Regions from separate parts of the Homo sapiens genome. Here region 1 is linked to region 2. Evidence: fine-mapped expression QTL. Tissue or cell type: whole blood. Region 2 holds a variant in brackets; the other region holds the start of a gene. All regions are shown on one strand. Distances are from middle to middle.

What was found. PIP is the estimated chance that this variant, and not a neighbour inherited with it, causes the effect.
Region 1: it holds the start of NEDD9, and the variant in region 2 is fine-mapped to the expression of NEDD9 in whole blood (TOPMed, PIP above 0.99).

The regions. Positions count from the first base shown.
Region 1 is chr6:11,231,429-11,233,928 of GRCh38, forward strand. It overlaps NEDD9 (neural precursor cell expressed, developmentally down-regulated 9), which reads right to left and starts at 1,240. Exons shown (of 7, transcript NM_006403.4): 1 at 1,076-1,240. The coding sequence starts at 1,087. RefSeq lists silencers at 748-797, 1,278-1,327.
Region 2 is chr6:11,322,635-11,325,390 of GRCh38, forward strand. All of the region lies in intron 5 of LOC105374925 (a long non-coding RNA gene), which reads left to right. It also overlaps a transcript of NEDD9 not described here. Among named protein-coding and RNA genes, the nearest start is that of NEDD9, 91 kb to the left of the region's middle. The variant G/A (reference allele first, on the strand shown) is at 1,244.

The DNA.
Region 1 (2,500 bases), 91 kb before region 2:
TACATCAAAAAAGGATGGACCAGAAAAATTTAGAAAAAAAGCGAAGTAGCTTCCAGCTAGTGTACAGTTAATATAAATTGTCAATCCACAAGCCTAGCACCCTTGCCCAAATCCATCTTAATAATAACACTTTTGTTTAAAATAGCATAAAATAAAATAGTAGCACTAGCACTCATGTCTATTCATCATTCAAGAAAAATTCATGTCCAATTCATTGCAGTCTGCTTTCTTTGTGTCCCCTGGAAGCTGCTTGCCTCCTTAGATGGGAGTGACTTAAAAGAAAAAGGGGAGGGGGGAATATACGGAGCAAGTCAAAAATCCTTTTGGCAAGAAAAATCCACAAACAATGGTGTAAAATGCATTGGAAAATAATGCTGCTGAAGTACTATGACTATGACACTCTGTAAGCTTTCAGGCACAATGAGCCAGCCTGAGCCTTCGCACTCTCACCCCATTCAAACTCCAATAAAAATGTTTTCAAGAAATGGCTCATACTTATTTATTCCTACATCCAATATAACATAAGGATGTCAAAATTTTCCATCCTCAGCTGTGTAATCTGGGCTTTTAATTTCTCCCACCAAAAGTGCATATGGCATACTCCTTCCGAGACCAAACGATTAAAGCAAAGTCTGGAAAACTTTGCACTAAGAGCCAGTCTGAGACAGACTATGCAGTCCTCATTCCTCTCATTACAGTTCCCCAGGGCAGTGGAAGCCAGGCCTGGGGAAGCCAAGGAGACTTGAGCCAATGCCTGCCGCGATTCAAGTCAGACACCCTCTGATCTCCAGTGGCTGCTGTGAAGCGGCTCCAAGTCTTAACTTCTCACCGAGGTATTTCCCCGGCAACTTTCAGAGCAGATGGACTCGGGTGTACTGTGAACCCCTGGAGTGGGTCTCAAAGACCGGGTCTCTGCTTGCTTGTCTGCTTGCATGTCAACCTCAGTGACCGAGACTCATCTTAGAACTCTCCGGGACACACAAGGGACTGACAGTAAGGAACACGCATACACAAGCACACACCCGCAGGCACAGCTTTCAGCTTGCAAGGTAACCTGTAAAAGGCACTCTCTTACCTTATACTTCATTTCGGCAGCGGTGGGTTGAGCCGTTTTCCTACACTAGTTAAGACAGCATTAAGCACTGCGGTGCCCGCCCCTCCATTGAGTGCAGCGCTAGATGAAAGCGAGAAGGTCCCGGGCAGAGCCGCTTGTCAGTCGCAGCGCCTCCCTCAAGTCTCTGAGCTCACTGTTGTGACTGAGGCAGGCTGATCGCGGACCTCATTTGCATGCCGCCCCGCCATTGGCTAGTGGGACAAGGTAATGCTCAGGCCCTGCCCACCCCTAATTCTGAAAAACTGACAAAGAACTTGTAATGTGATCGCTTCTTTTTGCTTTATCAGACGGTGGAAAATAAAACAGAAAGTGGGGAACCGTCCTGAACCTTACTCTGTCCTCCCGCCCCCGCCAAAAAAGAAGACAGAAAGAGAAAGAACAGGAAAAGGAGATACATTCTTTTTAAGATTAACCCAAATTTTAAAGAAACTGAATTCACAAAAGCAGTCTGACAGTCGCGCTTCCTGTGACCTAGCAACTCCTTCATAAACCCATTTCGTTTCAAAGCCATTCACCTCACAATCTCTACATGAAACGAACTCCGGGAACAAAAGGTTTTCTGTCTCCGGGCCCCTTTTTACTAACCACCCCTGCTGATACCTCTCTCTCTCTCTGTCCCTTTTTCTTTCCCCCTCCTCCCGCCTACTTTTTGTGTGTGTGTGACTGTTTGCTTTTTTTGTTCTTTTCAACGTTCAAAGTACTTTGCGATGTCAGTCTGCAAGGAGCTGGAAGACAATTCTCCCTTAGTGAAAAGGAACCCTCTAGCACACGCACCAGCGTTTTCCTGGACAGCTTCTCACCAGGGCCTCAGAGTTGCGGGTCACACATATTGAGCGACCTTCAGTGGCTTTGCTGAGGATAAAGGTTAGATGTGACCTCTCGGATGGGGTTGGCCAGTGCACGCCCTATACATCATCACCGTCCACTGAGTTCTGTGTTCTTTGACGGCTGGCATTTCTAGCTCCAGCTTTGAACACTGCAGTGTTTTTCCTTCTGACCTCTGTCCTGAGGATGACCCATTAACCCACCAACACTTATTATCCAGGAGAACGAAAATGCCCACTGTTTGATGAGCCTGGTTAAAAAGACCAGTCTCTCTCCAGCGAAGCACAGAACATAATTTCTATAAAGGTTCCATTTTAGGATTTCTATAGAGAAAGAGAATCACCCAGAAAACAGAAATGGTCACCTTCTGCAACTCTTCTCACGGACAGAGCAGTGAGGCGAAAAATTCCTTTTTCCCGGGCAAGACTGAGACTCGGTGAATCCAGACAATAGCTGTCCCTGAGTGGGATGCACTCCAACCAGACTACATGACTTGGATGGAAAAATCAGCCCTTATTTTTTTTTTTCCTGACCAAGTTGGATCAGAATCTGATTCCCTTC
Region 2 (2,756 bases):
CCTCCTTCCCTGATGGTTTGCCAGGAAGCACAGAATAATGGAGTTCAGTGTTACTCAAGGGGCAGTCACCTGCACAGTCATTACCGGAATGACGTGTTTCATCAGATGTTTCAAATCCCGATTCTTGGGGCCTGCTCTAAACCTGCCTACCAAGGCTCTAGGGGCGAGGCCTGGGGACCTGCATTGTTTGCAAACACCCACAGGTGATTCTTACATGCACGAAGCCAGGGAAGCATTGATAGAAAAGGTCTTAGACCAGCAGCCAAAAAACCCAAGTTCAAATCCATTTACTACCTGGGTGGTCTTGGGCAAGTTACTTATTAATTCCCGGCATGGGAGTCAATACTACTTTATAGGAATTTTTTATAAGTTATAGGAGATACGCTGTTATGTTATAGGAGTTATTTTTTTCTCTTTGAAGATTAAAAGAGACAAAACATATGACAAGGCTGGCAAACATTGAGCTCTTGCTACATAGTAGTACACAGTGCCCTAGAGAGTTAGCAAAGGGACGGTGAGCTCACAAAAATCTTTGTAGGCCTCAGGATATATATATTTTGCAGTGACTTTCAAGGCTGATCTAACTCTCTTTGGATGAACACAGAGCAAGGAGACTTGCCCACTGAGTGACTTTACTATACCCCCAGGCCTTACTAACTTGCCCAGGAGTGGGGAATATAGTGCTAGAAGGAAGCCAAAGCAATAAAGAGACACTTTCAGAAAAGCAGGCACTGCAAAGACAACCATTCCAGCTGGAAGAGCATGTGGTGGGAGTGGCGTCCTCTCAGACATGATCCTCTGCAGGGCTCATGGGCTCAAAGTCACAGGTTCTCACCAAGGGTGATGATTTCCCACAGGGAGCATCTAGCAACGTCTGGAGACATTTTTGTCACAGGGTAGGGAAAGGGGGTTGCTACTAGCATGCAGTGAACAGAGGCCAGAGAGGCTGCTAAACATCCTACGGTACACTGGACAGTCTTCCACAACAGAAAACTGTCTGGCCCCAAATGTTCATGGTTTCAAGGCTGAAAAACACTGCTCTAAGCTAATGCAGAAGACTTAGTCATGGGTGATAGAAGGAGGCCCCTAGGTGGCTACAAACCTCTGAGGGACAGCCTTCCGCTGTGGTGTTGCAAAGTCTCCCAGTTGCACAAGGTCCTGGCGTCCTGCTCATTGGTGGATCACCATTAACCACCTTGCACGTCACATGTTCAACATAGCTAGTTTCCCACCCATTCTTAAC[G/A]ATGATAAATCAGGAAAAGCATTCTTAGAACACTAGAAAAGCAGAAGTGTGGCTCTCTACAGGGCAGCGGGGAGGTTGCCTCACTCCTAGAAGATGTCTTGTTTTTACCAAGAGGGTAGAGGGATGAGAGGAGCTGGAAGACCACGCTGAGGAGCCACGTCCAGACACATGAAACGAACCTCACAGCCCCACAAGGATGCCGGGGAGGGCACTCAGTGCTTGGGATCAGAGCCACGTGGCCACTGGTTTCCGATGCCCCTTTGCTAGTATCTGGCTTCCGTGATTCCCTTGCCTTCATTTTGTGGCTCTCTCCTGACACTGCCGGCTGAGTGTCTTAGTTAACCAGTAATCTGGCTTTTCTCCCTCCACTTTGATCTTCCTGTCTCTGCCTGTCTCCTCTTTCCTGGCATGGCATGTGCTCTCGGGCTGTACCTCTGGTAGTGAATCTCTGGCTGCCCTGGACTCCTGCTGTGCACACTGCCCTGTGTGCAGGTCTGGATGCCTGGTGTTCCTTCTCAGTGCACCGCCCGATCCCCTGGGATCTCTTCACCATTTTCATGCATGGTGCCACCCCACGTGCAGGGCCAGCTTCATGGCACGTCACCTGTGTGCTTGCATAGGACTTGGTGCTCAGAAGGACTTCTTGATGGGTTTCATGCTCTGCGGCCACCGTATTAAAATTGTAATAATTTCCTCTTGAAACTTGTATTTTGTAAGTGACTTCTGATGAGACAGCATGGAATGAGCAGAAACACAGGAGATACGTGTGCCTGTCCTTTCTTGTCACCCTATTCACATGGAGCATTCGCCATGAACTCAGAATTCTGGTGTATTCACAATGTGTGGGAGTTCATGAAGCTTCTAAGTGACTCCCAAGTGTGTTTTGTCTATGATGAGTTAGCTGGGGAGGGGGAGGGACACTGACAGCCCTGAGAGGCCACACTTTCCATTTGAAAACCAAAACTTGCTTCAAACACAAAGGCAGCAGTGGTATTCTAAGAAACACATATGACCAAGGAAACTTGGTTTGACCTTTCTTACTCATGTTACTTCTTTGCATTTGCAAACAACTTAAACTGAAAATGAAGACACAGAAAGAAATAGAAAGATAAGGCAACCCATAGGCCTTTTTTAAATTCTTCCTTACTTGTCAGTAAGCCAAAGGTAGAGAGCATTGATAGAACGTGCATGTATCAGGCCGGGCACGGTGGATTACGCCTGTAATCCCAGCACTTTGGGAGGCCGAGGTGGTGGATCACCTGAGGTCAGGAGTTTGAGACTAGCCTGGCCAACATGGCAAAACCCTGTCTCTACTAAAAATACAAAAATTAGCAGGGTGTGGTGCCGGGTGCCTGTAATCCCAGCTACTCGGGAGGCTGAAGCATGAGAATCATTTGAACCCAGGAGGCAGAGGTTGCAGTGAACTGAGATCATGCCACTGCACTCCAGCCTGGGTGACAGAGAGGGACTCTGTCTCAAAAAAAAAAAAAAAGAATGTGCATTATTGAGAAGC